Linked DNA regions of Homo sapiens: region 1 is linked to region 2. Evidence: fine-mapped expression QTL. A gene starts in region 2. The other region holds a variant in brackets. All regions are shown on one strand. Distances are between the middles of the regions.

Region 1 (15,612 bases), 20 kb after region 2:
GGCTAGGTCTGAGAGTCTGCTTTTTTTTTTTTTTTTTTTTTTTTTTTTTTTTTTTTAAAGACAGTCCTGCTCTGTTTCCCAGACTGGAGTGCAGTGGCAATCTGGGCTCACTGCAGCCTCCGCCTCCCGGGTTTAAGTAATTCTCATGCCTCAGCCTCCCAAGTAGCTGGGATTACAGGTGTGCACCACCACACCTGTCTAATTTTTGTATTTTTAGTAGAGACGAGGTTTCTATGTTGGCCAGGCTGGTCTCTAACTGACCTCAAGTGATCCATCCACCTTTGCCTCCCAAAGTGCTGGGATTATGGGTGGGAGCCACTGCACCTGGAGAGTCTGCATTTTTAACAAGCTCTTAGACGATGCCAGTGATGCTGAATGCTGCTGGTTCTGGACCACAAAGTAGCAAGACTCCTGGAACCAAGCCCTGAAGCTGAGGGCTTTACGCCCTTAGGCTGAAAAGTAAGATCTTTGCCTTAAACATACTTCGCAGTGGCAAATTTTTTTTGGGAGATATAATTAGTCAGCCCAACAGTGGATGATGGCTTATTTTGAGTGAAGAGTCCTGCATCTGTTCTTAAATAATGTCTAGGTTCACCAGAATTTTATGAACTTATTGTGGAATTCTCTGTCCCCAGAGTGGTTCCCTCATATAAATCCATAGAAAAAGCTTTAGGAGTTTTTTTTGTTTTTTTTTTTTTTCAATCCTTTCTTGGCCATGTTTTCAAGCATTCCTAAGGACCTAGAATCTAAAATGCCAAAGAGAAAAGCAACAGGCTCAATGGTTAAGAAGCCTCATTGGACCACTCAAACCACTGGTTGGGCCCACTTTTCTTTTCCCTTGAGGTTTGGAGCAGTTTCTACTGACTGACTGGATCCCCAGTGTATCATCTGGTCCTAAGTCTTCAGGCACCGCAAGCCATTTCTCAAGATTTCTCAGTTGATTTTCTTCATTGTTTATGTGAAATTGCCATACGTTTGCTTTGGCAAACAGTTGTTATTTTTATATGGGTGGTTGAGTTGATACAACTTGGTCTGACATTTTGTTCCTTAAATTGGTTATATTGAATTTCTGTTCTATACCATTTATTCTTCCTTTGGAATTCAGATGAGTCACTGTAGCAGAGATTCTTATCCTTTCTGGGGTCCTGTAGCTCTTTGAAAGTGATAAAGGTAGGAATCCTCTCTTCAAAAAGTGCTTACATTCAACATTTTGTGTATGATTTTGGGGGCTTCAAACTTTTATTTCCCCTTTCCTCTACCCATAAGACCCTGGTTAAAATTCCGTGCTCTAGAATTTCACAGTTTGATCAAAGAGGCAATGCAGTTAATAAACCCCTTTTGGCTTCCCTTACTTAAAACTCTTCTGCTTTTTCCTTCTGATACCCACCCTGCTTTCAGTCCTTCTTGCCTTGTGTCCCATTCTCAGCTAAAAACTAAATTTTAGGGCCCATCAGTACTTTCCGGTCATGGCAGTGGGAGATAATTACTACAGGTGGCCATCTCTCACAGAAATCATTACTGTAGTACTGTCTTGTATTACCTTAGGATACTTATCAAACTTCCTTTATTTTGGAAAGGAGAAGGCCAAGTAAGGAAAGACTTAGTAGATGTTCCAGAGTTTATTTTATAAGGAAGAGGTGCATCTCTCCGTAGACTCTTAAGTCTAGAGAGAACTTAGATTGTGATCAGAGAACCTAGGATGGTTATTAAACACTAAAGTTAAACCCAAATTAGAGGGTCATATCTCTTCATGGTTTGTGTTTATGGGAAACTTTGTATTGGGCTCAGTATTTTAGGTGATACTGTTTTTCATTGTGCGAGACTGCCCCCCACACTGCAGGAAGTCTAACTTTTCTGGCCTTGCCCACTAAATGGCAGTAGTACCCCCAGGTCCTTGTGATTACTGGAAACTCTCCTGTCTACTCCCATTGCCCCCTAGAGGGCAAAATCAATCCTGGTTGATAAACACTGGGCTTGATGGATTTTGATTTATTTTTTGACAGTGTTAATCTTTTTGTAGAGCCCCTGTTGCTAATGTTCTTTCGAAATAGGACAATGCTTCCCCTCTTTCTCTAGTGCCTTCTTTCTTTCTTTTTTGGAGACAGGGTCTCGCTCTGTTGCCTAGGCTGGAGTGCAGTGTCACAATCATGGCTCACTGCAGCCTTGACCTCCTCAGGCTCAGGCAGTCCTCCTGCCTCAGTCTCCCAGGTAGCTGGGACTAGAGGCTCATGCCACCGTGCCTGGCTAATTTTTGTATTTTTTATAGAGACGGGGTTTCACCATGTTGCCCAGCTGGTCTCAAACACCTGGTTTCAAGAGATCCTCCCACCTCGGCCTCCCAAAATGCTGGGATTACAGACGTGAGCCACCATGCCCAGCCTCTAGTGCCTATAAATGTAGACCAGTCAGATGAACTTGTGAGCTCTGAGCTCAGGTGACCTCTTGTTCTAGAATTTTATAATTATCATGTCAAGATTCCTCACATCCCAAGGAGATGGCTTGGGAAGCACGCTCTGGGAAAATTTAAGCAAAATAACTATTTTGTGACTTACTTTTGGTCCTGTGGCAAGTCAGCATCAGTATTTGAAATTCGCCTCCCCTCAGCCATGCTGCCAGTAGCCTCTTTCTGCTGTGACTGGTTTCTGTGTTAAATTTTGTACAGCTACTTCAGCAAGTTCAGATTTGCTTATTTTCTTACTGTAATATATGAACAATTGAGGATTAAAACAACTTGTCTTTTATGAGACGTGATTTTCTTTGGTAAGCAGTTGTAGTCGGTAGCATCACGTTTAGTGGTCTCTGAGGTCTTTCTCCAAATTTTTAGCATTTCTATGGGGGCAGAAGATTTACTGTAAACTTGGTTAAACTCTCCTATGGCCTTAATGGGAAAAGGAAGGGGGACTTTGTTACATGAACTCCATTATTTGTATTTTTTCCTAAAACTGGTCTTACCTTGGGCACCGTGTTGCATGCATCTTTCCAGTCACTGTATAGCAGCAAACATTCTGTACCTTATGATTGTTTCCAGAGAGCAGCAGTACAGAACAGGTTTCCCTGCCACTTCCTGGACCAGTGGTCCCCAAACTGTTTTCTAGGGTCTGAGGAGGAAGTGCCTCAGGAACTGCTTCAGGCTGCAGAGAAAGGCCTAGAAGTGGGCTGGCCACAGCTCCTGGGCTCCCAACCTCATTCGAACAGCAGCAGCTCTCTTAGGATCTTATGTTATCTGTGAGTTCCACTTCATTTAAAGAAAGGGTTCTGCTGCTTAAAGGAGGGTTGAGAATCCCTGTCCTAGATAAACTAGAATTTCAGAGCTAGAAAACAAGTCCTAAATAGGGATTGCGCTTTATTTCCCAGAGTGATGCTTCCATGAGACTTGGCTGGACCTATAGTTGCTTTTCTGAGGGTTCTCTTCAATCTCCAGTTAAACTCCCCTCAGTCTCTTTTTTCAAAGGCATCACTATGGTTTTGAGTGTTTTCTAGGACCTTTAGAAATAATAGGACCCAGACAGTTGTAACCATATAAACTGACATAAGTACGAATCTACTTTAATGCATATTAACCGACATCACAAGGACCACTCTTTTCCCTCTTTTCTCTAGTGTCTCTTAAAAATCTGTTATACTAAAGCTCTTTTTTCCTGATCCATGGTTTAGTTCCATATTTGAAATCACTTTTTTTTCCTATTTGGTTTCTCTGCTACTGTGGTCTGGCTGTGTTAGCTTGTCATCTTTTTCAACTGATAAACATGTTTTCTGTTACTCCTTCCACTTTTCCTTCCTATTTTGACTTAAGTTCTTCACATTCATCTCTTACTTATTTCTTCTTCCTTCCCCTGTCATCCTTTCCACTTTCCACCTTTTATTTCCCTCCTCCCATGCTTTTTTGGGGCATTATTTGCAACTCCAAAGACAAATGGTATCTGGAGGCATTTTCTTATTTTATTAACTTTGTCTTCTAATCATAGAAATGACATAAAAGATAATATCTTTGCTGGGCACGGTGGCTCATGCCTGTAATCCCAGCACTTTGGAGGCAGAGGCGGGTGGATCACGAGGGCAGGAGATCGAGACCATCCTGGCTAACATGGTGAAACCCCTTCTCTACTAAAAATCCAAAAAATTAGTCAGGTGTGGTGGCGGGCGCCTGTAGTCCCAGCTACTCAGGAGGCTGAGGCAGGAGAATGGCATGAACCTGGGAGGCGGAGCTTGCAGTGAGCAGAGATCGTGCCACTGCACTCCAGTCTGGGCGACGGCAGAGCGAGACTCTGTCTCAAAAAAAAAAAGAAAAAAAAAATTAGGCCAGGCGCAGTGGCCCATGCCTGTAATCCCAGCACTTTGGGAGGCCGAGGCGGGTAGATCACCTGAGGTCAGGAGTTCGAGACCAACCTGGCCGACATGGTGAAACCCTGTCTCCACTAAAAATACAAAAAATAAGCCGGGTGTGGTGGTGCATGCCTGTAATCCCAGCTACTCAGGAGGCTGGGACAGGAGAATCGCTTGAACCCAGGAGGCGAAGGTTGCAGTGAGCCGAGATCATGCCACTGCACTCCAGCCTGAGTGACAGAGTGAGACCTTGTCTAAAAAAAAAAAAAATCTTAACCATGTAATAAGTGATTATGGTTGTTGGTGCTGAGTCACTATATTCACTTTGTGTGTGTATGTGAGGGGTGCTTAATTTGCATAGACACTTCCATTTTTGTCCTTTTTTTCTTTCAGGTTGCTAGGAAGAGGCTCAATGTTTGTGTTTTCACCAGATCAGTTTCAGAGACTGCTTAAAATTAATCCAGACTGGAAAACCCACAGACTTCTTGATTTAGGTGCTGGAGATGGAGAAGTCACAAAAATCATGAGCCCTCATTTTGAAGAAATCTATGCCACTGAGCTTTCTGAAACTATGATATGGCAGCTTCAGAAAAAGAAATACAGGTATAATTTTCTTGGTTTTAGATGCATTTCTTCTTGAAAGTATATTATTTAAAGGATATGAATAAAAAATGATCTTCCATGATTAGAAATTTAAAAAATCATCTCATACATAATTAACTGGAAATGTAGAGAAATAATCTTCTGGTAGCAGTATTTTTCTGGAGCGGAGGGGTTGGCACTATAGGTAAGAAAAGCACTAGCGAGAGACAACTTGGAAAAGGCAGATCAGAAGAAGGGACTTCTTCCCTAATCAGAATGTGGCATTCTCAAAAAAAATTTTTTTAAGTAGTGGTAAAATACACATAGCATAGAATTTACTGTTGTAACTATTTTTAAGTGTACAGTTCAGTGGTATTAAGTACATTTACATTGTTGCATAATCATCACCACTATTCATCTCCAGAAATTTTTGTCTTCCGAAACGGAAACTCTGTACCCAATAAACAATAACTCCCCATTTTTCCCTCCTCGTAACCCCTGACAACCACCATTCTACTTTGTCTATGAATTTGACTATTCTGGGTATTTCGTATAAGAGGAATTATATACATTAGCTCCTTGTGACTGGCTTATCGCATGTAGCATAATGTCTTCAAGGTTTACTCATGTTGTACCATGGGCCAAAATTTTCTTTTCTTTTCTTTTCTTTTTTTTTTTGAGATGGAGTCTTGCTCTGTCACCCAGGCTGGAGTGCAGTGGCACGATCTCGGCTCACTACAACCTCTACCTCTCAGGTTCAAGCAATTCTCCTGCCTCAGCCTCCCAAGTAGCTGGGATTACAGGCATATGCCACCATGCCTGGCTAATTTTTTTGTAGTTTTAGTAGGGATAGGGTTTCACTATTTGGCCAGGCTGGTCTCGAACTCCTGACCTCAAGTAATCCAAAGTGCTGGGATTACAGGTGTGAGCCACTGCGCCTGGCCCAAAATTTTCTTTAAGGATGAATGATAATTCGCTGTATGCATGTACCACATTTTGTTTACCCATTTATCTGTCAGTAGATATTTGGGTTGTTTCTACCATTTGGCTGTTGTGAATAATGCTGCTATGAACATGGGTGTACAGATACCGACTTGAGCCCCTACTTTTACTTCTTTTGGGTATAGACCCAGAAGTGGAGTTGCTGGATCACATGGCTAAGTCTGGGTTTAATTTTTTGAGGAATTGCAATACTTTTCCATTGCTGCTGCACCATTTTACATTCCCACCAGCAATGTAGTACAAGGGTTTCAGTTTCTCCACTCCTTGACAATACTTGCTATTTTCTGTTTTGTTTTGCTTTTAGTTTATAGTCATCAGTGTTAATCTTGGTTTTAAGGTCATCTGGAGTTTGAAAGACTAGGAAGAAGGGCCTTTTTTTTTTTTCTGGAGATGAAGTTTCACTTGCCCAAGCTGGAGTGCGGTGGCGTGATCTCAGCTCACTGAAACCTCCACCTCCTGGATTCAGGCAATTCTACTGCCTCAGCCTCCTGAGTAGCTGGGACTACAGGCACATGCCACTATGCCCGGCTAATTTTTTTTTTTTTTTTTTTTTTGTATTTTTAGTAGAGACAGGGTTTCACTATGTTGGCCAGGCTGGTCTCAAACTGCTGACCTCGTGATCTGCCTGCCTTGGCCTCCCAAAGTGTTGGGATTACAGGCGTGAGCCACTGCACCCGGCTGGAAGAAGGGTATTCTTATTTCAGTATGATTTATTGATTGGGAGATTTCTATATATTGGCTCAGTGCAGAATCAGGGAGGTAGAGCTGGAGTCAGCCTTTCTCTGTGATATTTTTGGAAGTCTGGTTAGCCTTAGAAAGAAAGGAGAAGAAATTATGTAATCACTCACTTTCCTATCCACATGTTTCTACTTTTACAGATTAATCCTAGAGATAGAGCATCAGTGTAGCTTTTGGAGCAGGACTGGTTTGAGCATTTGCAAAACATGGAGATTTTTAGCCTGGAGAAGGGAAGATTTCTGTGAACAGATACGCTGTGGGATTTTTATATGGAAGGAAAGGAATAGGTATAGTCTCTGGTGTAATCAGGCACAGCTACGCCTTAGAAGTTGAGTTACAGCTTAGGGAGATCGACCTTCCTAGCTTGAACTGTTTAAGTCCTTATCACTGTCAGTGTTTAAATTGCTGTTAGGGTTGTTATAGGAAGAGACATAAGGAAGGTGTGAGTTTGAACTGAGTGATTTGAAAGCCCCTTAGCTTTAGCAAGCTGTCTCAGATAAGGTTCTGGTGGGTCTGCATGGTGATAATTGACATGTTTTCCTTCAGTTAGAGATTAATTCGGCATTTCAAAACTTAGAATGCTTTGACCTTTGTTATAACAGTGGCTTAAGTCAGGCTGAATTCCTAATCTGATTCCACCTCCCCCCCTTAAAAAAATCCATGCTTTGAAGTGGGTCGAAGAGGAAGGTGTTAAACCCATCTTCAGATGATTGACCGCCCCAGCCTTCTTTTGCTTTGATGCTAAGTGCCTAAATGGAATTTTCAGGGAAACTTCAGATGTTTGAAATTAGTAATATATCTGGAGTGTACATGGTATGTAAAGATATCTACCACATAAAAAATACTTGGTTTAATTTTTTCCCTAATATACAGCACATAAGCCAAAAATCTGCAGTTTGACCTGCATGGGAAATTCATACTGATTGGCATTCCTTTCATAATATTAGTATGAAGTGAAAACATTTTCACAAAAGTGGTAAATTTTGTGACTATTGGTGCAGTTTGAGGTTTTAATGAGGAAGTAGTATCTTTATTTCCTAAGATTAGAGGTCACCCAATCCAAGATGGCAAGGCAGACTTTCAGCTGAATTTTACATTTTTTTCTTCCTTTTGAGATTAGAGCTATTTTCTATTTCTCTTCAATATCTGGGCCATGAAAAACAGGCTTTTTATTAATTTATATATATATATTTTTAGAGACGGGTCTCTCTCTGTCACCTGGGCTAGAGCATGTGGCGTGATTATAGCTCACTGTAGCCTTGAACTTCCGGGCTCAAGTGATCCTCTCACCTCAGCCTCCTCAGTAGCTGGGACTACAGGTGCCTGCTACCATATCTGGCTAATTTGAGAGAGAGAGTGTGTGTGTGTGTGTGTGTGTGTGT[T/G]TTTGTGTGTTGTGTGTGTAGAGACAGGAGTTTCATTATGTTGACCAGGCCAGTCTTGAACTCCTGGCCTCAAACAGTCCTCCTGCCTTGGCTTCCCAGAGTGCTGAGATTACAGGCATGAGCAAAACACACCTTTTTAAATAAAGGTTCTGTAATTTTTTTTTTTTTTGAGACAAAGTCTCGCTCCATCACCAGGCTGGAGTGCAGTGGCACAATCTCAGCTCACTGCAACCTCTACCTCCCAGGTTCAAGTGATTAGCCTGCCTCAGCCTCCCAAGTAGCTGGGATTACAGGCGCATGCCGCCACACCCAGCTAAATTTTTTGTATTTTAGCAGAGATAAGGTTTCACTGTGTTGCCCAGGCTGGTCTCGAACTCCTGAACTCAGGCAATCCGCCCGCCTTGGCCTCCCAAAGTGCTGGGATTATAGGTGTGAGTCACTGCGCCCAGCCAAAGTTTCTGCATTTCAAAAATAGGTCAATAAACAGAAAATGGCCAGGTTTTTCCTTTGTATTCGCAAGTTGTCATTGTTTATGCCAGAAAACCCAATTGTAAAACTAAAGGATGTGGTTTTGATTTTTACAGCAAGACAGTTTTCTTTATATTGTTAGTGTTTCATTTTTTATTTAGGAATTATCAAAATACAGATTGCTTATTTCCTAAGTTTAGAGCTCTCCCAACCCGAGATGGCAAGGCATCTTTTTTTTTGGGAGACGGAATCTCTCCCTGTTGCCCAGGCTGGAGTGCAGTGGTGCCATCTCGGCTTACTGTGCAGCCTCCGCCTCAGCCTCCCGAGTAGCTGGGACTACAGGCGCATGCTGCCACGCCCAGCTAAGTTTTTGTATTTTAGTAGAGATGGGGTTTCACTGTGTTGCCCAGCTGGTCTTGAACTCCTGAGCTCAGGCAATCTGCCCGCTTTGGCCTCCCAAAGTGCTAGGATTATAGGTGTGAGCCACCATGCCTGGCCTTTTTTTTTTTTTTTTTTTTTGAGACAGGATCTTGCTTTGTCGTCCAGGCTGGAGTGCAGTGACACAATCATAGCTCACTGTAACCTCAAACTCTTGTGTTCAAGCCATCCTCCTGCCTCAGCTGCCCAAGTAGCTTAGCTAGGACTACAGGTGTGTGCCACCATCCTTGGCTATTTTTAATTTTTTATAGAGATGGGGTCTTGTTGTGTTGCCCCAGCTGGTCTCAAACTCCTAGGCTCAAGCGATCCTCCCAAAGTGCTGGAATTACAGATGTTAGCTACTGCACCTGACTGCTTTATCATTCTCTAAGGAGAAATATATTTTACATCCTTCTGGAAGTATTAACTCATTTTCTTGAAAATAATAATCACTTGAATAGATACCCTCATTCTAGGTTTAGAAATACTGTTTTAGAAAAAGGAAAATTCTGACAACTTGTTAGGATTCCTGGGCTAATACGCAGTTTTAGTGGGGCTAAGCAATTTGTCTTCATCAGTGGAACTGAGTGAGTTTACAAATAAAAATCACAAAACAGAAGTAAGAATGCACTTGAGCTTCTATAGGTATAGATTTAACTGTCTTAGTGTTAGTCACCTTTTTGTGTTATGAGCATATATTTCTCTTCCAAAATTACCAACACAGAGGCTACCTATCTGAAACTCATTCTGAGGTAGGTTTAGTGAGATTATTCTAGATTAGAACATGCTGATGATGTTTGGCTTCTGCTTCATTGCAGATAGACATCAGATTTTTTTTGTTGTTTTGTTTTTAAAAATCAAATATATAATTTGTGTTTTACAATTTGTGTCTTTAAATTGGCTGCTTAGCTAAGGCGTTAATATATACAAATAGTCCTTTCTTTATTCATTTCCATTTTTTAGAATGGGAATTGATGACATTTTTGTTCTGAAAGTAGTCTTCTTAGTAATGTTTGGAAACTCTTGGAATGAGCTAAATTGAATTTCCAAAATTGCTATTACAGTTGACTTAGTACAACAAAGTGATTTTAAAGCCTGAATGCTCTACTTATTTCAAACAGTATTTAGTGCAATGAAACACCTGCACCAGTAAGGAATCTGACTAGTCCCTGGAAGTTTGTTAGGCTGCTATTTGGAAGAGGCTTTAGTTTGACAAAAATATAGATTGAAAAGAAAATGCAGCTAAGTGCTTTGTGTTTTTAAAATTCTGCTATTCAGAAATGCTCTAAATATCATTATGCTAATGAGGTTTTCAAAACAACCCTCATTATACTTTTAGAATTTTCTGAGCTATCTTACTGTATCTGCTCAACATTACTAAAGACTTGTTTACCAAAGATCCTTTTTTTATGTTTCCTTTTTTACCTGTCTCTATCATAACATATCTCACCTACCACATTCTGATTGGTATAACCAAGCAGGAGTAAGTAATTTGTAAAATTGCCTAATTGTGTGGCTAACAAAGACTCTTGATATAAAAACTCCCCCTTTCTAGAGATAACAACATTGTAGAGGACTGAAAATGTTCTCTGTGTTCTGTGTACGTGTGTATGAAAGTGAGAGATTGAGGATCGAGAGTGGTTTTTTTTTAAACCATGCTCTTAATGTTAATAGGATGTCCTGGGCTTTATCTTTTCTGTATAGTTTTTGTTTTGTTTTGTTTTGTTTTGAGATGGAGTCTGGCTCTGTCCTCAGGCTGGAGTGCAGTGATGTGATCTCGGCTCACTGCAGCCTCCGCCTCCCTGATTCAAGCGATTCTCCTACCTCAGCCTCCCGGGTAGCTGGGATTACAGGCACGCGCCACCACACCCAGCTAATTTTTGTATTTTTAGTAGAGACAGTGTTTCACCATGTTGGCCTGGATGGTCTCAATCTCCTGACCTCATGATCCGCCTGCCTTGGCCTCCCAAAGTGCTAGGATTACAGGCGTGAGCCACCGTGCCCGGTCCTTTTCTGTATAGTTATTCAGATATGAAGATTCTCAAGTATGAAATATGTCTTTCCTGGGAACGGAAATGTGCTCAAAGGTCATAAGTTATCAATGGAAATTATTTTATACCACTCCCAGCCATTTTTAAGAATAGAAGGGATCCTAGGAATAGAAAACATTAATTATATGATGCATTTTTTGATTAAGTTCCAATGAATGGTAAAAAGCTGGACTCTTGTTCATTAACTGATATTCAAAAGAATTTGATGTTTTAGTTTCATAACTTTGTCAGGTTACATCTTCATACTTATTAAACATGATTAGTTCTTGTAAAGGAAACTTCGTATGTGTTGAGATTTGGAAATAGGTGAAATGCTAAATTTAAAGAAATATGGGCCAGTCGTGGTAGCTCACACCTGTAATCCCAGCACTTTGGGAGGCCGAGGCAGTCGGATCGCTTGAGGTGAGGAGTTCAAGATCAGCTTAGCCAATGTGGTAAAACCCCGTCTCTACTAAAAACACAAAAATTAGCCGGGCATGGTGGCAACTGCCTGTAATCTCAGTTACTGGGGAGGCGGAGGCAGGAGAATCACTTGAACCTGGGAGGCAGAGGTTGCAGTGAGCCGAGATTGCTCTACTGTACTCCAGCCTGGGCAACAGAGTGAGGCTGTGTCTCAAAAAAGAAAAAATTAAAAAAAAAAAAAAATGGTTGCTATTTTTCTCTTCCTTGGCCATGTCATTATTGCAAACATAAATTATAACAGAAGATTTTGAACTTAATTTAGAAGACAAAGTTAAAGCCTTTATTGTCATCTCAGTTATTTTTAAAGATGTCTTTAGAGGGACTTTATGTTAATACAGTTATTTCTGATTTTTCTAGAGTCCTTGGTATAAATGAATGGCAGAATACGGGGTTCCAGTATGATGTCATCAGCTGCCTGAACTTGCTGGACCGCTGTGATCAGCCCCTGACTTTGTTAAAAGATATCAGAAGTGTCTTGGAGCCAACTAGAGGCAGGGTCATCCTTGCCCTTGTCCTCCCCTTTCATCCCTATGTGGAAAACGGTAAGTGTGGTCAGTCAGGCTAGCTCTTACTGAGGATAGCTGTTTATTGGTATTTGTGATTTTGTGCTGTGTACAATTAAATATTGTCTAGTATGTCTTATAATAGCCTGCAGTTTAAAGTAATCCAGTTAATCCATGTAAAACACCATCTTGGTTAATGTTCACCTTAAGGTGGACTTTATAGAGGTCTAGCATTCCCCTTGCAGTGGTAATAATTAATATTTAGCTGGGTCTGACTGCTTGAGATTGAAAGCTAAAAATGCAACTGTATCTCTGGTTTTAAATGGAGCTTGAACCATTTATTTATTAGCTTTACAACTGAATCGAGCAATAAACAGTGCCTTTAAATCTGGTCGTATATACTTGCTGAATGTCATGGCTGTTTTGTTTTCCGTTTTGCATCTCTTGTGCCAGACTCTAAAAATGATAAATGCTTTTATCTGTTTTTTTCTCTTTTGAAGACCATGTGTGTTGTTGCAGCATGTATCATTTCTTTCTGTAACATTTGATTTTTTGATTGCATGGTCTTGCTCTTCAGCAATATTGAATGAAGAATATGTTAGAAGAAACGGGTTGATTTCATATCACTTCATAGTTACTGTGACTTCTGGCCATTCTGACTTAATGCCACATTAAGTTATAGTTTTAGTTTGTGTGGTTTGCATTTTAGGTCATCTTGAAAGTTATGATTTTAAGTCTCCTGCATTTTCATAAGTTAATGTACATTAATATAAAATTATTTATTTTATGAATAATACAAGTTACTATTTAAAAATCTTCAGTGTTTCATTTATTTTTTTGAGACAGAGCCTTGCTCTGTCGCCCAGGCTGGAGTGCAGTGGTGCGATCTTGGCTCACTGCAACCTCTACCTCGTGGGTTCAGGCATTCTCCGGCCTCAGCCTTCTGAGTCCCAAGTAACTGGGACTTCAGGCACATGCCACTATGCCTGGCTAATTTTTGTATTTTCAGTAGAGATGGGGTTTCGCCATGTTGACCAGGCTGGTCTCTAACTCCTGATCTCAGGTGATCCTCCTGTCTCTGCCTCCCAAAATGCTGAGATTACAGGTGCGAGCCACCATCCCTGGCTGAAAAATCTTCAGATTTTCTATTTCACTGCCTCGATTGACCTTGACTTCAGAAACTCTTAAGAGCTCACAGACATTTTGAAGAAATCTATTAGGATTTTGCAAATGTCATTATTATCAAATATGAAAATCTATGTCTTAAGGAATAATGCCCGTTTCATATAACCATTGGATTCTGTGTGGATTTGTGGTGTCACAAATTAATTTAATTTCTTGTATGTGTTTTTTCTCCCCAGATCTTAGTGCCTTCAGATTTAATGCTTGTCTTAATATTTACCAAATGGTTTCAGATTTGTGTTGATAATGGGGAAAATGGGGAATTCTTTCGATATAGAAGGGTGTGGAAAAGAGCAGAGAGAACAGATCTCCCCTTTCCCATCTTAGATCTCCATTTTTATGTTCCTGTTGTCGAGTGGTTTGTCATGGTAAAGAAAAAATGCTTTTAAATGTGAGTGTATATATATCATCTATATGTTGCAAAATGTCCTCCTTCGTGATTCAGCAACCTGATCTTACTTCAGTGCTACTCCTTCCTGTGTAATTAAGCCTCAGCTCCAGCTCTCTGTATTGCACTCACTAGTCATCAGGTTGGAAGGTCCTGGGTTCCTGTGTCCTGTTGGGCAACCGCATGATAGAACTTTAATGCTACTTCCTGGCATAGCAGGAGATGAAAGAGCAGGGGGAAGAAACATCAATCTAACCACGAATTTTATTTCCTTGTGTTTCTGATGCTAAAAATGGAGAGGAAGTCAAACTAGACAAGAGGGAAGTCTCCATGAAGTGTGGAAAACAAGCTCCTTGATTGTGGATGTGCAGAGCTGCCTGTTGAGTCTGAGGAGTCTGGCATGTGACACACTGCAGACCTGAGACAAGAAGCCTTGTTGCTATGGGTGACTTTTAGTGACCTATAAATTTTGCAGGCGCGCCACGGCACTCTATTATTGCTTTCTTTCTCTGAGTCACTAATTAGATCCTGATGATTTCCATGTGAAACCATGAGGACTGGGAGATGCAAAATGGTTTTGCTGTGTAGATTCATGAATGCTGGACTGTTGGAGGATATCTGAGTGTGCTTTGCATACTTGGCTTAATTTGTTTTTTTTTAACTAAAAGTAGTTGTAGGTGAAATGATTACTTAGGTAATTGTTTTGGTAAATGGCTTGAAGTTGAACCACAGCAGTTTTGCTATTTGGAAAAAAAATGAAAAAAATACCATTCTAATTTCAGTTTATTTGGTTTACTGACCCAGTTTTGGCTAGGGGTTATTGAATCTAGTGAGAATTATTTTAAGCACCCCCCAAAGAAGGAAAGATATGAAGTCAAGAGAAGGATAATTATATTGTAAAAATAAAAATTTAATGATGTTTAATTTTTCAAAATTGTAATTTTTATTAAAAAGTAATTCAGTAATTAAAAAAAAATACTTCAAGCAACTTACTAGAGGGTTTACAATAAAAAGTTTCTGGGCTGTGCGTGGTGGCTCATGCTTGTAATCCCAGCACTTTGGGAGGCCAAGGCAGGCAGATCATGAGGTCAGGAGATCGAGACCATCCTGAGTTAACACAGTGAAACACCATCTCTGCTAAAAATATAAAAACAAAATTAGCCGGGTGTGGTGGTGGGCGCCTGTAGTTCCAGCTACTGGGGAGGCTGAGGTGGGAGAACGGCGTGAACCCAGGAGGCGGAGCTTGCCGTGAGCCGAGATTGCACCACTGCACTCCAGCCTGGGTGACAGAGCCAGACTCCATCTCAAAAAACAAACAAAACAAAAAAAGTTTCTCATCCAGTCCAGTTCCACAATCTTGTTCAGGTTTCTTGAATATTCTTTAAAAGATAGTCTATGTAAATGTAAGTCTGTATGTACATTAAAAAAATTATACAGGCAGTTCCCAATTATAAATAACTTCTGTTGCCTTTTTCCACTTAAATGTATCTAGGAAAGTAGTTCTTACCAGCACATATGTCTCCACATGGTTGTCTACATGTAAGCTGTAGATGCTGGAGCTGGCGTGGACTGGTTCATGAGAGCTGATTGTTGTTTTGGTAGGAATTTAAGTGAACTGGTTGTTAAACATGGCCATTATTGAAATTGACCATGATGGGAGTATTTACACTATAGAAATTGGCAAACACTGCAAATAGCCATTTTCTTCTCCAAGCTGGTAGTTACACATTTACCAGCACACCACTAGATGTATAACTTTACTAGAGGAGGTCTCTAGATAGCAATTTGCTTAGTAATGTTTAAAAACAAAACACCCTCCCCTGTCCTCCCCCACTTTTTTTTCTTTCTTTCTTTTTCTTTCTTTTCTGAAAGGGACTTGCTCTGTTGCCCAGACGGGAGTGCAGTGGTGCTGTCACAGCTCACTGCAGCCTTGACCTCCTGGGCTCAAGCTATTCTCCCACCTCAGCCTCCTGAGTAGCTGGGACTACAGGTGCATACCACCACACCCATCTAACTTTTGTATTTTTTTGGTAGAGAGGGCGTCTGGCGGCGTTGTCCAGGCTGGTCTTGAACTCTTGGAATCAAGTGATTGGCCTGCCTTCGCCTCCCAGCGT
Region 2 (15,612 bases):
ACGGTAAGCTCTATGAAGGTGAGACATTGTGTTTATTTTGCTTTCTATTCCCGTAAATCCAGGGCCTGGTATATTCCATGTACCCAATAAATATTTATTGCATATGTGAAAGTGGCATTTCTTTGTCTTTTGGTTAATATTGCTGACATAAACAAACAGATGTGCGAATGATGAGGGAGGAAATCATGGGAGTTCAAAAGGTTCTGTAAGCAGGTGAAATGCCCTGGCGGGTACAGACTGGGTACATAGGTGAGCCAGCTGGGAAGAATTTTATATATCAGAGGGGAAAAGACTTTCCTACTAAAAAGACAGGCATCTTTGACAAGTAGGTAACTTGAGTTTACTCCCTGAGTTTTATTTTATTTTTTGAGACATGGTCTTGTGCTGTCACCCAGGCTGGAGTGCAGTGCTGTGGTCATGGCTCACTGTAGCCTCGACCTCCCAGGCTCAGTTGATGCTCCTGCCTCAGCCTTCTGAGTAGCTGGGTGTATAGGCACACACCACCTCACCTGACTAATTTTTGTAGTTTTTTTTTTTTTTTTTTTTTTTTTTGGGTAGACACAGGATTTTGTCATGTTGCCCAGGCTGGTGTGGAACTCCTGGGCTCAAGCCATCTGCCTGCCTCAGGCTCCCAAAGTGCTGGGATTGTAGACATGAGCCACTGTGCCCAGCTGATTTTGCTTTTAGGTTTGAATTTTTTTTTTATAGTTCTGTGTTTATTTGTTTTACTTTGTTTTTGGAGACAGACTTTTGCTCTGTCAGCCAAGCTGGAGTGCAGTGGTGCGATCTCAGATCATTGCAACCTCTGCCTCCTGGGTGCAAGTGATTCTCATGCCTCAGCCTACCAAGTACCTGCACAACCACACCCAGCTAATTTTTGTATTTTTAGTAGAGATGGGGTTTCAACATGTTGTCCAGGCTGGTCTTGGATTCCTGGCCTCAAATGATCTTCCCACCTCAGCCTAGTTTTGTGTTTTATATTCTTTTCCCCACTCAGTTTGAAATGTCATGAGGATAGACACATGTGTGAAGATAGACACATTATTAAGAGATGCTATCGTCATGGGTTCTAAGAGAATGTTTTACAGAGAGTAGCTTTGCAGAGACCAAAGTCTCTGACAGATCATCAGACATTAGATTCTTACAGGATGGCCACCTAGATCCCTCACGTGGGCATTTTACATTAGGACTGAGCATCTTTATTATGATAACTTTGGTTGATGTTTTGCAGTTTAAAAAACTCTCAGATCATCTAATTCTCACACACGTCTTGTGAAGCAGACAGCTCAGAACCATGGCTCTTAGTTTACAGATGAGGAAAGAGAGGCTCAGATGAGGTTGATTTACCCAAGTTAAAGTGAAAACAAATTAACATTTTTTGAGTGTTTACTAAATGTTGAGGCACTTATTAAGCCCTTTATATTTATAGTATATAACATGATATTCACTGCATCCTTATGAAATAGGTAACCATTATTATTATTTCCATTTTACAGATGAGGAAACAGACATGTAGAGGTCAAATAATTTGCCTCAAATTGCATAATCAAGAAGCATAGAGCCCAGCTTAAAACCCAGATAGTCTGGCTCAAAGTGCAGATGATAAACTACCATGCTAATGAGTAGCACTGGGAGTTCTCCAATGAAGCACACGATGTTACTTGTATTTGCTACTAACGTCTTCTTTTTTTTGAGATGGAGTCTCACTCTGTCACCCAGGCTGGAGTGCAGTGGTGTGATCTCAGCTCACTGCAACTTCCACCTCTCAGGTTCAAGCAATTCTCCTGCATCAGCCTCATGAGCAGCTGGGATTGCAGGTGCAGGCCATCACCCCTGGCTAATTTTTTTTGTATTTTTAGTAGAGACCGGGTTTCACCATGTTGGCCAGGCTGGTCTCAAACTCCTGACCTTGTGATCCACCCACCTCAATCTCCCAAAGTGCTGGGATTACAGGTGTGAGCCACCGCACCTGGCCAACTACTAACATCTTCTAACCCCTGGTTCAATTCTGCTACTTGAGGCTTTTTTTTTTTTTTTTTTTTTTGAGATGGAGTTTCACTGTGTTGCCCAGCCTGGAGTACAGTGGCATGATCTCAGCTCACTGCGGCCTCTGCCTCCTGGGTTCAAGCGATTCTCCTGTGTCAGCCTCCTGAGTAGCTGGGATTACAAGCATGAGCCATGGTGCCTGGCCTAGGCTACTAATTTTTTTTTTTTCAAAGCTGTCTGCAGTTTTGCCTTGACTTAGAATTCATCAACTGGAGCCCACAGTGATATCATTGCACAGGATTGAAGTTGTATCAACTAAATTCAGATAAAGATCTCCTACGTTAATTAATTAAACAAATTGTTGAGTACATTTGCTAATTTTGTTAGAGGTGCTCATTGCTTAATAACTACAGGACACATTCTATTGAATATACTGGGAAAAAGCTGTATCTTTCTCTGAAGGTATACAAAACAATATTAAGAAGCATAAAAAATATCTGTCCATAAAAACATGATTATGGCCAGGTGCAGTGGCTCACGCCTGTAATCCTAGCACTTTGGGAGGCTGCAGCAGGCGGATCACGAGGTCAGGAGTTTGAGACCAGCCTGGCCAACATGGTGAAACCCCATCTCTACTAAAAATACAAAAAATAGCCAGGCGTGGTGGCAGGTGCCTATAATCCCAGCTACTCAGGAGGCTGAGGCAGGAGAATTGCTTGAACCCGAGAGGCAGAGGTTGCAGCAAGCCGAGATCGTGCCACTGCACTCCAGCCTGGGCAACAGAGCAAGACTCCATCTCGGGAAAAAAAAAGTGATTATATGAGTTATTTTTATTTTTATTTTTTGATACAGGGTCACCCAAGCTGGAGTGCAGTGGCACAATCTCAGTTCACTGCAGCCTCAGCCTCCCAGGCTCAGGTGATCCTCCCACCTCAGCCTCCTGAGTAGATGGGTCTACAGGTGCATGTCACCACGCCTGTCTTATTTTTGTATTTTTTGTAGACACGGGGTTTCTCCATGTTGCCCAGGCTGGCCTTGAACTCCTGGGCTCAAGCCATCCACCTGCCTTGGCTTCCCAAAGTGCTGGGATTACAAGCATGAGCCACCCTGCCTGGTCTATATGAGTTCTTTTTAAATCATTATCTCTTCAAGGAGATAACAATCATCAATAGGTTTTGTACAGATCCAAACTCTCTGCTTGTGGATTCTCTTAACATGATACTTTGTAATTGAAAAGAGAATATGAAAATGCCAAGCTTTGTAACTTCAAAGAACAACAATAACAAAAAGCCTTTGCCTAGAGATCTAGATAGGAAAGTGATCCCGCCAAAATTTTGGGCCTGTGTACAGGGCTGTGACCCAAGTGGGACACCTGGGGTCAATGAGCAGAGTTCGGTGCAGAGGGTCATTTGTGTATCTTTTGAATATTACTAACTGCATCTCAAGATCATGTTAGAACGAGTATTGGCTATTTGGCTTTTTGTGTCATCTTGCCCCTTCCCGTCTCCATTATGGAGAATTGAGGTTTTAATATACGGTAGTGACATTCTAGTAGATGAAGGAAGGGGGCTGTCCCCAGTGGGCAATCTGAACTTCTGCTTCGTATATTTACTCTTGCTGTTTTCGTTTCTCCTCATTTGTAATTCAGGAGGCTCTCTGAGAAGAGACAGCAAAGCTTCTTAGATGGATCGAAAGACCACGAGCTGGGATACCAAGTTCTATGAAAAGGTCAGCTATTGAATTTACTCTGCTACCTTCAGGCAAATCATTTGATCATCGGATGCTCTGGTTTCTTCCTGTGCCTGCTAAATGTAAATAGCATGGGTTTGAGTGTTTGGTGGTTATTATAGAGTATTTTAAATGTATGAGTGATTTATTTTTCTAGGCCAGCTGCTCAGATATAAAACAAAATCTGCTCCTTTGAGCTGTTAGGCTTCGTGGCAGTCAACTGACCCCAAAATCCTTCTGACTACAGCAGCCATCTACTTGCTTGTTCATCTGATAACATTTTGCAGTCTCTCAGCTACAGCTATGTGGTCTCACTCTATAGCTGGGGCATACCTTTTTGTCTCCTTTGTCTTCAGAAAGGAAATATGCCATTTTATGCACTCCTGCTGCTTTCACCCCCACTTTAAAAAGATGAAGGCTTCCTTTTGTGACAGAGTTGCTTTGTCTGTTACACTGATCCTAAGAGACAGGAAGGAGAGGTGTCATAGTAAATAAACAGTTATTGGACTTGCTACCATAGTTCCTTTTTGATGACTTGGGCCAGGACCACTAGAGGTTTGAACTAGATTTAGTAAGGCTTGGGCTTTTCGGGGTTTTGGCAGGAAGCAGTCAGGGAGTATATTGGAAAGAGAGAACACAAAATACCGAACCCCACCCACCCTGTGCCTTTTTGTTTGTTGTTACAGCCTGTTACATTAGGCAACAAGATATCCTTGTTAGCCAAAGGTGCCAAGCTGAGATTCTTAAAAGCTAATGAAAGAGCTGTTGGGCCAGGTGCGGTGGCTCACGCCTGTAATCCCAGCACTTTGGGAGGCCGAGGCAGGCGGATCACGAGGTCAAGAGATGGAGACCATCCTGGCCAACATGGTGAAATCCCGTCTCTACGAAAAACACAAAAATTAGCTGGGCATGGTGGCGCGCACCCGTAGTCCCAGCTGCTCGGGAGGCTGAGGCAGAAGAATTGCTTGAACCCGGGAGGCGGAGTTTGAAGTGAGCCGAGATCGAGCCACTGCACTCCAGCCTGGAGACAGAGCGAGACTCCACTCCGTTTCAAAAAAAAAAAAAAAAAAAAGCTGTTGGGTAAGGAATGATTTTGTTCCCCATCTGTGGCTCACCACCCCACTGTTTCATAAATGAAAATCTCTGATGTGCAACGCTGAATTAACCAAAAGGCTTACTTCTTTTGTTTTGAACTTAGACACATTTACATTATTTCTGGTGCAGTTAAATTAAAAGCACTTTCCAAACAAACCTAGGAAAGTATTAAAGTTAGGGACTCCCACGAAATGTTACTCCTTAATTGTGGCTTGGATAATAGCAGGAAGAACTGCAGACAGGAACACAGTGTAACTAACCCTTCAGTTCTGAAATGTTGCTAGGTCTCCTCGTGTTATAAATGATCAAATAAATATCCGGGTTAAACACTGCTCCCAGAGCTGAGTTCACTCTTAAGAGTGTTGGGTCCAACTTCCCTGTGCTAATTCAAGGAAACAAGGCAGCCAAGGAGTCTAACTTGAGGTCTTCATTCTTGGGCAGGGCCATCAATACATCTAAAACATTACTTGTGGGTACCCCAGCTGCGGTAGCTTCCCCAAAAGGCAGAATTTTCACTCATTCTTTATAGAAACACGTAGCCAGCAACTTCTCAGGCTTGGGGAACGGGGCAGGCGGGTCGTGGTGGTGGGGAGAGTAGAGGAGGGAGTCTGGCAGGTCGGTTCTAAATGTAAACTGGAAACTACGCATCCGAGCGGGCAACCATCACTGGCACCATTCGTCTCCGGGAAGAACCTGTGTGTGTCAGGATGCACGAAAGGAATGACTCCCCTCTTTGCGCCCCCGGGGTTAACTGCACGACCCTGTCAAAGTCCCGCCGTGGAGTGGGATGAGGGTCGAGAGGTAACCCTGTCAAAGTCCCGCCGTGGAGTGGGATGAGGCGAGGAAAGACTGGAGGTCCTTCCAGCACCACCTTGGAGGGGCAGGGAGGCTGCAGTTACCGCCTTCGGAAGTGATCTCCTCAGCCCTCAAAAAAATTAAAACCACCTCCGCCATTTACTAGAGGCCAAGGCAGGGCCGGGACACGAGAACGCGCTCCGGGCGGATGCGCGCTCCCTTTGTCCCGCCTCCCAGCGGCCCGCTCATTGGACGGAGGGAGGGCGCCGGGGGAGAAAGCGACGCGGCCGCTCGTAAGTGCTCCGGATGGAAACTGGTGCAGGGGGCAGCGGCGTTCCGCGGCCGGAAGGGAAGGGGGAGGTGCCGAGGCTGCGCGCCGGCTGCTCCTCCCCACCCCCAGCCTTTGCCCTGAAGGGGGCTGGATGGGCAAGGCGGCCGCGATGGCTCGAGCTCGGGCGGTGGCGGCGGTGGCCGGAGGCGGCGGTGCCTCCTCCTCCTCGCCCCGGCGCCGGCGGTGATCCGAGCGAGCGGCCGCGGCCCCCGATGAGACTGCTGGCGGGCTGGCTGTGCCTGAGCCTGGCGTCCGTGTGGCTGGCGCGGAGGATGTGGACGCTGCGGAGCCCGCTCACCCGCTCCCTGTACGTGAACATGACTAGCGGCCCGGGTGGGCCGGCGGCGGCCGCGGGCGGCAGGAAGGAGAACCACCAGGTACGGGCTGGGGCCGGGGCCGGGGCGGGGGCGTGGCGGCCCGGCCTTCCCGCGCTGGGCCCGGCTATTGTGCGGGACGGCTCCGCGAGGGGGCGGCCCGGCCCTCGCCCCTCCGCCTCGGCCCCTTGGAAAGTTTTCCCCGCGCCTTCCCCGCCGGGCGTCGACTCCGCGAGCCCCGGGCACCCGGCCGCGGCCCCGCGAGCGCCTTTTGTTCCGCAGCGCAGGCGGGGCATGGCCTCCCGGGCCCGATCGTGAGCGGCCCGGAGCCCCGCATTGTTCCTGGGTCCCGGGCGGTGACTGCGGACGCCCGGCAGCGGGACTGGGGAACTTTGGGGCCAGAGCGTGGCTGGGGGCGCCCGCCTGGCACCGAGGCCTGAGACTGAAGAGACCCGGCCAGATCCATTACCCCGAGAAACAAAACGAAAAGCCAGCCCCTCTTGTTGTCTCGTTGAATCCCAGAACGTACAAAGGGTCGTGAAGAAATGTAACTGTACATCGCAAGCCATTGAACTCTCCAGGCTGATTGGGGTGACATTTCTCCCTAAGCACTTAAAAAATGGGTTTGACAGGTTGTCGCTCCCATCCTACGGAACCTTCCCCTCCTACCTAGCAGAGATCTCCTTTAAACTTGGATTTAGTCAGCCTGCTAGAAAGATTGTGTGTGATGAGGAGGAAGATTATGCAAGTTTTACAGGAAGGGTTTTTAAAACAGAACGGGACGGGAGGGAGTTTTAGTTATGCATCGTGAGCGTTACGCTGTGACCGGGTAGGTAGGCTTTTCATTAGCTCAGTCTTGCGCCACTTAAACGTGTACAGGTTAACTGTAGAATTAAGTGAGATATTTCGTATATGACCTTAACATAGTTTGCAGTTAATGTTAAATTCATTGAAAAGAGGCTTTTGAACTCTGCCAGAGTGTTGGCTTGTCATAGCTAGCATTTATAATACATTTTGCTTTTCCATAGAGTATTAATTATTCCCTATATCATCTTGTGTCTCATCATTTTCATATATTTCTCATTTTCCTACATTACTTTTTTATTATGCCAGGTGTTCAGAGAATTTACACCCAGGTTGATTTCATGTGTTTTAATGAGGGTAGAGAATTGTCTAAGAAGGAGATAGAGCAATTTAGAAAAGTAGCATTTAGTCTTTAGTAATATGTATATTGGGCTTTTTTCTATTGTTAAAGGAATCCTAAATTTCTGTAAATTTTTTTGAAAGCCTCCAGCCATTGCAGTTTGTTAGGTGCAATATCAGTATCATTGATCACTTGTATGATATGGTTAGGAATGTATGTAAACTTAAATTGCAAAACCACATTTATTCCTATGGATTATTTGCTTACACTAGTTCATTCTTATAGAGACAACTCAAAGGTACTGTACCGTTGACTGTACAGTTACCAGAATGTCACATATGGAACAATGGGGTAGACAATGAATTAGAAATGTCATTTTTAACATTTTTAAGCAGTTGATAGAAATAAGGTCCTGGATAGGAGAAAAAGCGATTTATCTCCATTGATGGGGGATTATGGTTGAGTCTCTTAGCTATTGGTATTTATAACACTTATCATGATTACCCCTACTGCAGCCACTTGGTAGGTTTTTAGTGCTCATAAAAGAATTGCACTTATTTTAAAATTGAAACACTATTTCAACACTGTGATGTGTATGGAGGCGGAATTGCAGCTGTAGACATAGCCTCAGAATATCTCCCAGCAGAGGATACTTTCTGACTGTACCTTTTAAAAGCTGAATCTGTTAAGTTCTAATGAAAACTAATACTGGTTTCAGATACGTTTATTTCAGATACCGTATTTATATTCTGTGTGTGTGTGTGTGTGTGTGTGTGTGTGTGTACCCCTTCACTAACAATTCAGCAGATAATTTCTTTAGGGTGAAGACTTAATATGGTGTTTTCTGAATATTTGGGGGATGGGTCAACTCTTTTCCTTAGAATAATGAATCCAGACATTATTTTGACATGAATACATTCATATTATGAAAATAATCGTGCATGAATAAAGATTAAAAGGAACAGAAGAAAGGTGTGTAGAAACCACCATGAGATAAAGTAGGAAACTGTCCTTTCTGCACTGTGGCTGGAGTTGATAATTTGTTTTCCACTTAATATTCCAGGATCCTGGGTTTGCCTTATAACTTCGTTGCTTGTGAAGTAACTGTAACTGTTTTTCCTCCTTCAGATTAATAGTTTTATACAAGGTCTTCTAAGTGTTCAGTTGGGTGTGTGAGTTCCATAGCCAGCCACATCTGGGCCTTTTGGAGTTGCATAAAAGTAGGGTTGTGGATTTGATTGAACCATACTTAGCAAAAGTGTTCCTTCTGGTTATTTTATTAAGGAATTATGATGGAGGATTCTGTGGTTAAAAGAGAGATCTTGGGCAATGTTTATTCGTTAAAAATGGCTATTTTGTTAGTATAGTTTGGAGAGGCAAGGCTCCTTTGGGCTAAAGCTGCTCTAAAACTGTAGTAGCAGTGCCATTTTAGTAACTTGGTTTGGTGTGCTAGCTTCAAAACTGGGATTATGTTTCACTTTGGGCAAGCAAGAAGCAGGGTTTCACTTAGAGCAGGGAAGTGGCTGGGAGGCCAGACTGGTCTCACAGACTTATTTTACAGCCTATGAAATAAGAATAGTTTTATATTTTTAAATGGTTACCAAGAAAATATCAAAATAACATTTTGTAATACATGAAGTTTCATTTATGGAATTCAAATTTATTTCAGTGTCTACAAATAAAGTGTTTTTTTTTTGAGATGGAGTCTCGCTTCGTCACCCAGGCTGGAGCGCAGTGGCCCAATTTTGGTTCACTGCAACCTCTGCCTCCCAGGTTCAAGCAATTCTGATGTCTCAGCCTCCCGAGTAGCTGGGATTACAGGTGAACACCACCACGCCCAGATAATTTTTGTAGTTTTCAGTAGAGATGGGGTTTCACTATGTTGGTTAGGCTGGTCTCAAACTCCTGACCTCAAGTGATCCTTCTTCCTGGGCCTCCCAAAGTGCTGGGATTACAGGCGTGAGGTACTACACCCAGCCCACAAATAAAGTTTTATTGAAAGAGAACTACCACATTCATTTACCTGTGGTCTATGAGCTCCCTGGCTACAATAGCAGCATATTTGCTACTGTATGGCCTGCAAGCCTAAAACATTTACTACGTGGCTTCTTACAGAATAAAGACTTTTTCCAAGAGAAATTCCCAGCTTCCTTAACAAACAGCTTTTTTTTTTTTTTGGAGACAGGGTCTCACTGTGTCACCCAGGCTGGAGTGTAGTGGCACAATCTCAGCTCACTGCATCCTCGACCTCCTGGGTTCAAGCGGTTCTCATGCCTCAGCCTCTCCATAGCTGGGATTACAGGCACGTGCCAGCACACCTGGTTAATTTTTGTAGTTTTAGTAGAGACAGGGCTTCACCATGTTGGCCAGGCTGGTCTTGAACTCCTGGCCTCAAGTGATCTTCCCACATCGGCTTCCCAAAGTGCTGGAATTACAGGAGTGAGCCACTGCAACCAGCCTCCAACAGCATATTCTTAATCACAGGTTGCAGGGTGGGTAGATTGACTCACTGGGAAGAAATAGAGGCAGGCAGTGAGAAACTAGTAGATATTGTCACTTTGCAATGTTGGCAGACTCAGAATTTAAAAAGACAACAACAAAAAACTTAGGATCTATTCTTTTTGATGCATTGCACCTAGTGCTTAAAGTTAATGCAACTATTATGGAGCTACTGAAACTTTGAAAGGACCCTTAGGCCCCAGGTTCTTGGTAATAATAGCGGTTCAGTAGCTTCTCAATTGATGGAGTGAAAAAATTGTTATAGAACTCGCTGAACCAAACCACAACGATTTCTCCGGGTGACATACTGCAAGGTTTTTTAAAAGCACAGATAACATTCAATATCTGGAATTATTAAGTTGTAACTTAAAATTGCAAGTATGTGTATATTTTTGTGACTTATTTTTTCACTTTCTTATATAAGCTCAGAACTGCGCTATGCCACAAGTGATGAAGAATTCAAGAAAGAATTAAAATCCTTTTTTTTCCCCCAAATGAAAAAATACTTGGACAGCATAGCCAGAGCCAAACACTGTGCTAAAGGACAGAGTGTTTCCTGTCCCTTTACCCCTCACTTACCCTGTGGAGGCAGACTGGAGTCAGGCATGAGTTAACAATGCTTCAAGGATAGTCAGCCAGCTAAGCCGGACAGACACTGATGGATTGGCGTCCTTCTCTGAACTGCCTTCGAGAGTCTGGAGGCCTTTGCAGCTGAATACCAAAGAGACTTCAGAAAGGATTTCTTTGCTTCCTCATAATCTGTGTTGAAACCCCAAGTGTTTGCTTCAGTTTCACAGAACACTAGAATCTCTTTCTTGTGCTGGATATACCAGGAGTCTTTATGTTTCTCTTTGAAGGTGCCCTAGAAGACCCTAATAGCTTCCAGTAAAAAGCTCTGTTGTGTAGACCCTCTGAAGCTTTGTTAAAATTTTAGGATTATCCTGTCCTATGGGGAGTGAGTATTTAGTATTTGCAATGAGGATTGCCAGTAATTGGTTATTAAATCAAAGCTGAAGCCATTTAATCTGTTTTAATTGATTCCCCTCATGGATATGAGGGTGCCTGTCACTGTACACATTGAAATCTCACATAAAGAGGTTATTGGGTTGAGTTTATATTGTTTGTGGGAAAATGGTGAATGGTCTGAATATTTACGCCTATGCTGTGCTTAAATGCAAGGTGTGCATGGTGAAATGTCTGGACTGAGTTGACTGCATTGTAAAATCTTAGAATGTGAATTTTGAATCCTTAGCTGTCAAGCTCTGTTGATGGAGTTGGTCTGGCCAACTTAGAAAAGATTCTGTGTTCATAGATCCTGAGCAGTGGAGCTTTTCTGATTGTTTTTGGTAGCCCTGAATGCCTTGGGTCTTTGATTACCCATTTCTTTTGAGAATGGCTGGATGCCTAGACCTACAGTTTGGTTTTTAGGCATTCCCTTGAACTGTACTTCTCCTCTGACCAGCCCTTGCCTTGGAGAGAAAGGGGAAGGAAATATGAAGAGCTACTGGCCTTCTATTGTGTGCCAGGCACTTCAAATATATTATCCCCAGTAGTCCACATAGAACTCTTGGAGGTTGGTGGTATCATCCGCACTTTACATACAGAAAAGTGAGGGTGAGAGAGAGAAGAGACTTGCTCACCAGCACAGAGTTAATGGATGATAGAGTTGGGCTTTGCACCCAGCTTTGGTTTCAAGGCAACACATTTTCTGCTGCTTTATGATGCCCCTCCTGGTAAACCTTGTGTTGTCTGAGGGGTGGTAAAAATAGGCTTGCCTTCTTTTTTTTTTTTTTTTTTTTTTTTTTTTTTTTTTTTTTTGAGAAACAAGTTCTTACTCTGTCACCCAAGTTGGAATGCAGTGGCCTGATCATATCTCACTGCAGCCTCAAACTCCTGGCCTCAGTACATCCTCCTGCCTCGGCCTCCTGAGTAGCTTCTAAATCTTTTGTAGAGGCAGGGTCTTGCCATGTTGTTCAGGCTGGTCTCAAACTCCTGGCCTCAAGCAGTCCTCCTGCCTCAGTCTCCCAAAGTGCTGGGATTACAGGCGTGAGCCACTGCTCCTGGCCTAGGCTTGCCTTCTGAATAGGAAACTGCCCTCATTCTAGTGAGGCCTCTGTGTAGACACTGAAGTTAGGTAGCTGTGTGCACAATACTTGTTGAAGATTTTGTAGTTTGTGAATTAGATGAGAATAAGACAGCTGCTTGAAGTTCTGGCCTTTATCTGGTTTGTGCATGCTTTTTTTAAGGCTTAAAGTTGAAAAAAGATTCTTACATGTATTGTCATTTTTTCCTGACATCAGCCATTCTCTAATTTTCCATCACCAAGTGGGTGTTTAATTGTTCAATCCTGTTCTGACATTAACTACCTGGAGTTAGGGTCACGCTTTACAGAGTTAAGAGCTCAGTCCCACAAGACTGCCCTCACTTCAGAGGCCAGCTGGAAGTCCTGGGTTCCCAGGCTGCCAGTGCTTTTGTCCACCTTGAACAAATTTGGGAGTTCCCACAACTCTACCTTCACCCTACCCCACCCCACCCCCTAATTTCCTATAATAGAATGACTCATAGAACTTAGGAAAACACAGGTGCGGTGGCTCACGCCTGTAATCCCGGCACTATGGGAGGCTGAGGTGGGTGGATCACGAGGTCAGGAGATCAAGACCATCCCGGCTAACAGGGTGAAACCTGGTCTCTACTAAAAATACAAAAAAATTAGCTGGGCGTGGTGGCACGTGCCTGTAATCCCAGCTACTGGGGAGGCTGAGGCAGGAGAATCGCTTGAACCGTGGAGGCGGAGGTTGCAGTGAGCTGAGATTGCGCCACTGCACTCCAGCCTGAGCGACAGAGCGAGACTCCGTCTCAAAATAATAATAATAATAATAATAAACCACTTAGGTTTACTGGTTTATTACAAAGGATACAATTGGGGAACGGCCAAGTGGAAGAGGTGCATAGGGTGAGGTGTGGGAGGTGGTGTAGAGTTTCTCTTTCCTCTGATGAGCCACCCAACCATCATATCAATGTATTCAGCAAACTAAAAGCTCCCAGGACCCCATAGTTTAGGGGTGTCATTACATAGGCATGATTAGACTCAGTCTTCAACTCCTTTCTCATCCTTGGAGATTGGAAGGTGGGGCTGAAAGTTTGAACCTTATACCCACATCCTGGTCCCCATCCTGAAGCTGTCTGGGTCTCCCACCCCTATCAGGAGTCATCCTGTTAGCATACAAAAGATACTCTTATTACCCTGAGATTCCCGAAGGGTTTTAGGAACTCTCTATCAGGAACCTGGGACAAAGATCAAATATGTATTTTTTATTATACCACATCATCTAAAATCAGTCAGTTTTTAAAATTACTTTCTGACTCTGCTAGTGTGCTTAAATCCTTTGTATTTTGGGAATGTTGTATTTTGGATATGTTGTATATCACATGTTTGATTAGTTGATAAACTCCAAAAATAATTTCAGAAAAACTTTTAACCATATTTGGTCTGATTAGCAAATCTAATTTTATAGGAAAATTGCATTCCTACTTTGAACGAGTGATTCATCAACCAAGGTTATATATAAATATTAGGAGGAGTTCATGGGCTTAATGAGAAATTTTTTTTTTTTTTTTGACAGTCTTGCTTTGTCGCCCAGGCTGGAGTGCAGTGGCACACTCTGGGCTCACTACAACCTCTGCCTCTCTGGTTCAAGTGATTCTTTTGCCTTAGCCTCCCAAGTAGCTGGAATTATAGGTTCCTGCCACCACGCCTGGCTAATTTTTGTATTTTTAGTAGAGACGGGGTTTCACCATGTTGGCCAGGCTGGTCTTGAACTCTTGACTTCAAGTGATCTGCCCACCTGGGCCTCCAAATTGCTGGGATTACAGGTGTGAGCCATCGTAGCCAGCCAGGAAATTTTTAAGACAGTATGACCTAATATTTAATAACTTCGGTTGGCGAATACTGTCAGACATGCATTCAAAACGCGTGGCAGCCACCTGATTTGGCTGTTTACTGCCTGGCCAATTATTAGTATCTTTGCAGTTGTGTTGCCAGTAGGGAGAATATTGCTATTTACTGTAATTTTTAGATATCACATCCTGTTCTGTACTTGGCATCAGCAGATGACTGAATGGAATCATTCTCATTTGATTAGAATTTGTCATTTAAAAGATTCCCTTGTTTATTTAGATGAAACAACATTTGAGTGAGCTTTAAAGGCAGATGCTAATAAGATGCTTTTTCAGACATGGTAGGCTCCAGCCAAGGAGTCCAGCCTCACAGTAGAGTGGGCGTGTAGTCCTGTCAGTGTGTGAATTTAACGGGCATAGTACTTTGTTCTTGCCTGTGCACCTTTGTCTCTGTAGTCTTTAAGGAGCACACATTTAAAGAACTCACCTGCGGCTGGGCGCAGCGGCTCACGCCTGTAATCCTAGCACTTTGCGAGGCCGAGGCAGGCAGATCACCTGAGGTCAGGAGATCAAGACCAGCCTGGCCAACATGGTGAAACCCCATCTCTACTAAAAATACAAAAATTAGCCAGGCGGGGTGGTAGGTGCCTGTAATCCCAGCTGCTTGGGAGGCTCAGGCGAGAGAATCACTTGAACCCGGCAGGCAGAGGTTGCAGAGAGCCTAGATCACACCACTGCACTCCATCCTGGGCGACAGAGCAAGACTCCGTCTCAAAAAAAACAAAGAACTCACCTGCTTGAAAGTACACAGGAGCATACAGACAAGCCACCCAGTGCTGCGAGCTTAGCGTAGCTTTTTATCTAAGCTGGTTGTTTGGAGAGAGGTGAAACCAGGAGTCCTGCCCATTGGGTTAAAGGGGTTCCTGCAGATTTTTTCTCTCCTTGGTCCTTGGTATTTCACCTTAAGGGCAAGGTGACTGCTCCTTTAAGGCTCTGAAGCTCCTCGCCAAGATCATAGTCACATTACTTGTTTCCCTTGGTTTCTGATTTTATTTTCACTCTGGAATGTAAGTTCTCTGAGGCCAGCGAGTCCATCTTTTAATTCAGTCAGCTGGAGTCCCTAGACCATAGTTAGGCTGGGATAGTGGGAAACACTACTGGAGAGTCAGTACAGTGACATTTTGTGGGTAAGGCCATGTATGGGTTCTCAAGCAGTGGCAGTTTTGCCTCCCAGGGGACATTTGGCAATGCCTGGGACATTTTGGGCTGTCATTTGGGGTAGTGCCACTGTAACCTGATGGATAGGCACTAGGAATGCTGCTGAACATCCTACAATGTGCAGGTCAGCCCCTATAACAAAGGATCATTTAGCTCCAAATGTCAGTAGTGTGAAGGCTGAGAAACCCTGGCTTACAGGACTTTAGTTACTATCTAGACCAGATTATCTTTTCTCTACACACATGTAGTTCAGTTTAATTGGCAGGATAGTCCTGCTTTCTTTTCTTTAGCAGACACACTGGGTAGAGTTAAGTGAAGAGAAGCTTCTTTGAAAGAAACGCTTATAAAACAACACGTACCTGGAGCAGGAGCTTGAATCAGCTGGAGCTGCTTAGGGACCCTATGCTTCCCATTTATTCAGAAATTGCAAGGTGGTAAATGAAATGTAAAGCACATGGCTTGGTGCCTGGTGCATGATAGGTGCTCAGTTGGTGTCTTCCTTCATTGCTTGCTTCCTTGCTTGTGGTAATGCAATTTTGTGGTGAGTGGGTAGCTGTAACCACTGGTTGCAAAATTAGGTTTAAGCAAGGCCTTGCAGAGTTTGA

The links.
Region 1: its variant is fine-mapped to the expression of METTL9 in blood mononuclear cells (TOPMed, PIP above 0.99).

What each region holds. Positions count from the first base shown.
Region 1 is chr16:21,613,149-21,628,760 of GRCh38, forward strand. It overlaps METTL9 (methyltransferase 9, His-X-His N1(pi)-histidine), which reads left to right. Exons shown (of 5, transcript NM_016025.5): 3 at 4,717-4,926; 4 at 11,783-11,967. Among named protein-coding and RNA genes, the nearest start is that of METTL9, 21 kb to the left of the region's middle. The variant T/G (reference allele first, on the strand shown) is at 8,028.
Region 2 is chr16:21,593,587-21,609,198 of GRCh38, forward strand. METTL9 (methyltransferase 9, His-X-His N1(pi)-histidine) reads left to right here and starts at 5,991. Exons shown (of 5, transcript NM_016025.5): 1 at 5,991-6,312. The coding sequence starts at 6,148. LOC101927814 (a long non-coding RNA gene) reads right to left here and starts at 5,799. Exons shown (of 3, transcript NR_110930.1): 1 at 5,070-5,799; 2 at 4,048-4,173. RefSeq lists a silencer at 5,978-6,597 and an enhancer at 6,706-7,270.